2 linked regions of the Homo sapiens genome follow. The protein of the gene in region 1 purifies or fractionates together with the protein of each later gene. This does not show direct contact. Each region holds a gene or a part of one and is shown in the gene's direction. Other genes may lie near its edges. The genes, in order: FMNL2 and USP48.

Region 1 (3,817 bases):
TGATCTATTTATTAATTGTTTTGCTTGGGTTCTTCCCACTACTTGATTTTAAAAATGTGTTGGCTCTGTCAATTGCCTCAATATTTTAAGGTGTAGAGCTCTGTGCTTGGCTGATAACCAACTGCTTTTAGGGTTTGCTATACTTGGAAGTGGTCCCTGTTGTGGCTCATGCAATTTAGAGGACTGTAGGTGGGAATACAGGAACTCTTTATTTCCATAAGTGTCCACTAAATGATTGTGAGGGATGTCTTGGAAGCATTATAAGATCCTTGTGAGTCTTTGATAGCTCGAGATCAGGCAATTTCTCCAAGGCCTTTAATCTTTCTTTATTATTCATCCTTATTTAGACTGTTAATTCTTAGTGATTGAAGCCCATTTGGTGAGATGTTTTGCTAGTGTGTTGAGTAACTCTCTCTCTCACTCTGGAACCAAGAGGCCAGACAGAATCAGGATGCCCAGTAGAATGAAGAGACAGAGCTGAGCTAATATTCTGAAGCCTCCTGGGAAGTCAGAAACCTATGACATCACTTGGCCTCTGGACCCACAGGCAACACGAGGGTCTTATCTCTTCAATGGGCAGGTGTGTTCTTGGAGACCAAGACAGAAGACCAAGAGGAGAGCCCCATAGTTTATCTAGTTGAGAGTTTTCTTTGTATTTTATAGAGAAAATAGTAGTAGTGTGAAATATGCATTTGAAGAAGAAGGCTTCCTTCCTCTCAAGTCTGTGATAGAACAACCTGGCTCCCTTTCCCCCGGTAGGTCACCTGAGACAGGCTGCTGAGCAGGTGGAACCTTTGCCGTCTGTCTGGGAGGATGTGCTCGGATCCTCACAATGCGAATTTGGACTTTGGTTGATTGTTTTTCATGTAAAAATTATTCCTATCCTATGGAATGCCTAGCACAGTTCAGTATTGCTGTTTGGTACCACTACGATGAAATAATTTTTTTCTTCCCTCTTCTAAAAAGGATAATTTTAAAAATGAAATAGTTGAGTCTTGGAGGCAGGCCTGAATGGAAATGAATTTTTGGCTCTGTGCCGCCTTGTGAAATGTGTCCAAGAAGCATGAAATTCTATGCTGAGTGCGTGAACTGCTGAGCCACTTGACTCTAACCATATCTAATTTTTTTTGTATTTTCTCTGTTCTTTCTGCTTCCACAAAAGATGGGCCAATCAAGCTTTTCTGTAGGTTGCTCCTCACTGAGTGTGTTGAGTATTTGCCATGTGTTTCTGTTGGTCACACTGTGCCTTGACATCTTTCCACTCCATTTTGCTTTGATCCATTGCATTTTGACTTTGTGTCTGCGGGAAGTCTTGGTGGTGGCTGATGATGATTCCAGGTTTGCCCACACATTCTAGTTGAACCTACATAAGAGACTATTGTCCTTGAAGCAGACATCCTGGATTCATATGCCCTCTTCCATTTCCTCTGAGAAAAGGTTTTTTTTTTTTTTTCTTCTTCTTCTTTTAATTTTTATATTTGTATCTGAGACTTCAACTCTAAGAACAAAAAAAAGGTGCCAGGTGCCCCTTTTCCATTCCCTCCCTCATGCTGGTCTCTGGCCCACTCCAGGGAGCACTCACCCGCCTTTAGCCCGAGCCATGGGGACACAGTGTGTCCAGTGGTCACCTATGTGCTTTCCTCCTCTTCCCACTCCCACCCTGGTTAAAGCCAGGAAAACCTTTCCAAGGAGGAGAACTTTCTTGCCTGTGTTCTGATCTCAGGCTTATTCCTGACCTTGCTAAATAGTTAGAAGGGTGGTTGCAAATGGCAAACTTCTAGCGAGCGTCATGAGCCTACCATGTCTGTGGGAGGAAGGTAGGACGCCATTGGCACCAACCTGTCACCTCAGGTTATGAAAAGACTCCTCTGCGGCCCTTCTGCTGCTCCCCAGATCCCTAACATTGCCGAAGTGCCAGAGGCAATGCTAGGGCAAGTGCTAGAGGAAAGTCTGTTCCTTTGTCCCATCGAGAACATCTGTTTTCCTGGGTAGCGTAGACAAAATGCTGTACGGTGAGGAATCTGACACTGTGGCGTAGTGGGGACAAAGGTGTCATGTTTGGTGGTGGAGAGGCCTGGTTTGGCTAAAGCTGTGTCTGTTTTTCTGCATGCTTTTGTGTGGATTTATCAGATGACATTCCTGCTGTTTAAATGGCCTTTGTAACTCTGGAGGAATGAGAGGCACTGTCTGTCTCAGTTAACGCCAACTGAGGCAGGCAGGCAGGCAGCCAGCTACAAGCTTAGTCGTGTGTTGCTTTTATTTTGTTCTGCACTGAAGCGCTGAAGTTCTCCTCCCTGTCTTGCTAATAATGACAAATAGTGAAGCTCCCAAGTAGTGTGGTAGGCTACCCAGAACAGACTGACGAAGCTGAATGTGTATGGCTAAATGGTTTGGGAAGACTTCTTTATGATATATAATAGATAAATATAATTTTAAATGGATTACCTTTTTTGGCATATTCCCGCACAGTGAGAGGAGTTGGCACTCCCCATAGTCCCTTAAAGATACATCCCATTCTCTCTATTAAGAGGTTTTCAGTATTTTTAATGAGTGTGTAGATACCTCCTAGTCAAACACAGCTGACTCCTGGGAAGAACTTGCTTTTCAAAATGAAGGGCAAGGGACTGTGGCTATTTCTGAGTCTGAGAATCCATACAATTCCTTCCCTTCCCTCCCCTCCCCTCCCCTCCCCTCCCCTCCACTCAATTCCCTTCGCCTCCCCTCCCCTCCCTTCCCTTCCCTTCCTTCCCATCTCAAAAAAGAGGAGTTTCCTCCCTTCCTCCCTTCCTTCCTCTTTTTTGAGATGGAGTTTCGCTCTTGTTACCCAGGCTAGAGTGCTATGGCGTGATCTCGGTGCACTGCAACCTCTGCCTCCCGGGTTCAAGCGATTCTCCTGCCTCAGCCTTCCGAGTAGCTAGGATTATAGGTGCACACCACCACAACTGGCTAATTTGTGTATTTTTAGTAGAGACAGGGTTTCACCATGTTGGCCAGGCTGGTCTTGAACTTCTGACCTCAGGTGATCCACCTGCCTTGGCCTCCCAAAGTGCTAGGACTTTGAGCCACCACGCCCAGCAATTTCTTTTCCTTCCCCCCCGCCCCTTTTATTTATTTATTTTTAAGACAGAGTCTTGGTCTGTATGTACCCCTTTTTTCACTCTGTTGTCTTAAACATTTTCTTAGGCTGGGCAAGATGGCTCACGCCTGTAATCCCAGCACTCTGGGAGGCCGAGTGGGGAAGCTCGCTTGAGTTCAGGAGTTTGAGACCAGCCTGGGCAACATGTGAAACTCTGTCTCTACAATAAATATAAAAATTAGCCAGGCATGGTGGCACACAGCTGTGGTTCCAGCTACTTGGAGGCTGAGGTGGGAGGATTGCCCGAGCCTGGGAGGTCAAGGCTGCAGCGAGCCATGATTGCGGCACTGCACTGCAGCCCGGGTGACAGAGCAAGACCTCAAAACCTATTTTCTCATTTAGGCCATTCATATCCCTTAGTCTGCTTGAAATAACCCAGCAGCCAATATATCTTCATTATCGGAATCACCCACAGGAAGTCAGCCTTCATGACGTTGTACTTCTGGTAGTCTAGTCAGCCACTGTCTGCAGTCCCTGATCATCTTCTAAGGTTTGTTTGTAAACATGTGGTCTGCAACCAAGAATTTAGGATGTCCAAATATGGCAAGTTTTTGCCCTCTCTGCTATCTAGTAACATGAGTAATAATCTTTGCTCTCCAACACTTTTTATTTGTCCCAACCATTGTCCTAATATTGTAACTGTAATGCAGCAAATTAGTTGCCTGAGTTAAAAGAAAAAAA
Region 2 (3,817 bases), on another chromosome or scaffold:
TTACTTTGGTCAGTCACACCCCCTCCCTCTCCCTCCCCCACTCCTGCCTTCCCTTCAGTCTGGATCTTTTATTTAGTTGAAATATGTTTTCTCTGTTTTGAATTTAGGGTTCCTGTCATCCTTGTTGATTCCTTTTTTTTTTTTTTTTTTTTTTTTGAGACCGTGTCTCTCTCTGTTGCCCAGGCTGGAGTGCAGTGGCACGATCTTGGCTCACTGCAACCTCCGCCTCCTGGGTTCAAGCAATTCTCCTGCATCAGCCTCCAGTCTTCAGCCTGTAGCTGGAGTTACAAACGTGTACCACCACACCTGGCTAATTTTTGTATTTCTAGTAGAGACAGGGTTTCACCATGTTGGCCAGGCTGGTCTCAAAACTCCTAACCTCAAGTGATCCTCCTGCCTTGGCCTCCCAAAGGGCTAGGATTACAGGCGTGAACCACCACGCCTAGCCAGTTGATTTATTTTTGTTTGTGTGCATGCGTGAAGTAGTGTGAGAAACAGTCACATGGTCCCAAATTGTTCATTATATGAAAAGGTACATTTCCTTTTCATTCATTCATTCATTCATTCATTCATTCATTCATTTTTTCCAAGACAGAGTCTTGCTCTGTCGCCCAGGCCAGAGTGCAGTGGTGTAATCTCGGCTCCCTGCAACCTCCGTGTCCTGGGTTCAAGGGATTCTTCTGCCACAACCTCCCAAGTAGCTGGGATTACAGGCCCGCACCGCCACGCCCGGCTAATTTTTGTATTTTTAGTAGAGACAGGGTTTCAGGCTGGTCTCGAACTCCTGACCTTGTTATCCGCCTGCCTCAGCCTCCCAAAGTGCTGGGATTGCAGGTGTGAGCCACTGTGTCCGGCCGAAAAGGTGTATTTTCTTTTAACCTTATTCCCACTCATGCTCTGTAGGTAACCAATTTCATTAGTCTCTTGTTTTTCCTTTCTGTATTTCTTTTTGTACAAAATGAGCAGAAATATGTACATGTATATTTTCCTTATATATTTCTTACACATAACAGTATACTAGAGATACTCCTTTGCATTTTGCTTTTTTTACTTAATAATGTGTCCTGGATTTATAAATTACCTTATATCTGTTCATAGATATCTTTTTCATGCTGTGTGTGTGTGTGTGTGTGTGTGTGTGTGTGTGTGTGTTTTACAGTTGCATAGTACTCTGCCATATAGATGTACCATATTGTCTATTTTTGGGCATTTGGGTGGCTTCCAATATTTTGCAATTAACAGACAGTGCTGTAATGAATAACCTTATGAGTGAGATTTTGCATTGTTGGAGGTATAGCCTAAGGAACAGTAAATCCTCAGAAATGAGATTGCTAGGTCTAAAGGTAGTTGTCTATGTAGTTTTGTTAGTGACTGCATTTCTACCAGCAGTATATGCATGCTTTCTTCTCCACACCCTCACAAACTGAGTGTCTTATACTTTCTCAGTTTTGCTAATTTATAGATGAGAAGTGGTATCTCATTTTAGTTTTAATTTGTTTGTCTCTCATGAAACTATGGTCTTTTAAAAATTAAAGGTTTTTTTTTTCCCCTTAGACGAAACTGCAAAGGAAATCCGAATTGCTTGGTTGGTATTGGTGAGCATATTTGGTTAGGAGAAATAGATGAAAATAGTTTTCATAACATCGATGATCCCAACTGTGAGAGGAGAAAAAAGGTAAACCATCATTTTTTAAGCGATTGCTATATGCTGTTTTTTGTTTTTGTTTTTGCTTTTGTTTTGGGCCTGTGATCAGAAAACTCTACTGATTTCAGGTAACCTGTGCAGCTTTAAGATAAGCAGTAGAACTTAAGACTCTAAGCCACTTGAATTGGAACACTTCTTAATGATATGCTTTAAAACAGGCAGCTGCGTAATTCAGTAAGCCTTTAAATAATAGTTTTAGTTTGAATGCTGATTCTATGTTTGCTTTAACATTGCATGTTTTATTTTGAAATCTTAACGCCTCTTTAAAGGAGATGGTAATTCAAGGGAACAAACTCATGATGATAGCACTTTGCTTTCTAGGGCTTGTATTTTATATATAATTTTGCTTTTTAAAAATATACATTAAATTTTCTAGACATAAATCTTAGCATTCACGAAATATCCAAGTTTGTTATATATAGATATTTTAATAAAATAATAATTCTTTGTAAGGTCAGGAATTCCCAACCTTATCTTTGGAAAAAGTTGCAGCCAGTTCCCTCTACCACCGCCAATCTTTAAAATCTCTAGAATATAAAGGAAGTTTTCTGCATAAGTTTTACTTTGTCATTCTGCTGAATGCTGGCAGTTTAGAAATACAGAAAACATAAAACCTATATACGCTTGTTCAAAACCGATCTTTTCTAGAATCCACTGTTCTAATTTTAGATTTAAGTGGCTGGAGAAGACGATATGCTAGAGATGAGCAGTGATGCCGTCCGAAGTCTTTTTCACTCCTGTGGTCAACCCAAAATGGGGCTTTCATGAAAATTATGCCCCACCTCCAGCCAAGAGAAACTTAAGGTGGCTATACCATGTTGGTTGTGACGGTCTTACACATTTTTAATCTGAAAATTTAAGAATAATGCTTAGAAATTGGTTGTTTAAAGGAAAATGGGTTTTATAATTATGAATTTTGTATTTTTGTAGAACTCATTTGTGGGCCTGACTAACCTTGGAGCCACTTGTTATGTCAACACATTTCTTCAAGTGTGGTTTCTCAACTTGGAGCTTCGGCAGGCACTCTACTTATGTCCAAGCACTTGTAGTGACTACATGCTGGGAGACGGCATCCAAGAAGAAAAAGGTGGGTGGAAAGGGGTGGGGGAGAGCTCTCTTCCTGAACATTTTTTTAAACTTTTTTTTTTTTTTTTTTTTGAGTCTTCCTCTGTTTCCCAAGCCAGAGTGAAGTGGCGCCATCTCGGTTCACTGCAACGTCTGCCTCCTGGGCTGAAGCGATTCTCCTGCCTCAGCCTCTTGAGAAGCTGGGATTACAGGCGCCCGCCACCACGCCTGGCTAGTTTTTGTATTTTTAGTAGAGACAGCGTTTCACTATGTTGGCCAGGCTAGTCTCGAACTCCTGACCTCAAGTGATGTGGCTGCCTCGGCCTTCCAAAGTGCTGCGACTACAGGTGTGAGCCACTGTGTCTAGCCTAAACTTATTTTATTATTATTATTATTATTTTTTTAAGACAGTTTCACACTTGTTGCCCACGCTCTAGTGCAATGGCACAATCTCGGTTCACCACAACCTCCGCCTCTCAGGTTCAAGCAATTCTCCTGCCTCAGCCTCCCGAGTAGCTGGGATTACAGGCGTGCACCACCACGCCCGGCTAATTTTGTATTTTTAGTAGAGACGGGGTTTCTCCATGTTGGTCAGGCTGGTCTTGAACTCCCGACCTCAGGTGATCCACCCGCCTCGGCTTCCCAGAGTGCTGGGATTACAGGTGTGAGCCACTGTGCCTGGCCTAAACTTATTTTTTTTATAGAGACAGTGTCTTGCTCTGTTGCCCAGGCTGGTCTTGAACTTCTGGCCTTAAGCAGTCCTCCTGTCTCGGTCTCCAAAAGTGCTGGATTACAGGCATGAACCATGGTGCCAGGCCTTGAATAGCTTTTACCAGCCTGCAAAACCTTTGCACCCCAAGGAGTAATATTTTATCTTTATTTTACAGATGGTATATTGACTTGCTGAAAGCCACAATTGGTAGTAAGGATACAAATATTCAGAGTCTGATTAGAAGACAGAAGCTACACAATAATTTGAACAGAAAAGGTTTTTTTTTATTGTTTGTTTGTTTTTTGAGACAAGATCTCACTTTTTCGCCCAGGCTG

What was found.
Region 2: the proteins of FMNL2 (region 1) and USP48 purify together in Homo sapiens (affinity purification with mass spectrometry; one large-scale study listed by BioGRID and IntAct). This does not show direct contact.

The regions. Positions count from the first base shown.
Region 1 is NC_000002.12:152,621,375-152,625,191, forward strand, and holds part of FMNL2 (formin-like protein 2), read left to right. Parts: intron 1-1,162; coding exon of another isoform or gene 1,163-1,183; intron 1,184-3,817. UniProt on the Homo sapiens protein: Plays a role in the regulation of cell morphology and cytoskeletal organization. Required in the cortical actin filament dynamics.
Region 2 is NC_000001.11:21,755,521-21,759,337, reverse strand, and holds part of USP48 (ubiquitin carboxyl-terminal hydrolase 48), read left to right. Parts: intron 1-1,554; coding exon 1,555-1,675; intron 1,676-2,633; coding exon of another isoform or gene 2,634-2,635; coding exon 2,636-2,792; intron 2,793-3,817.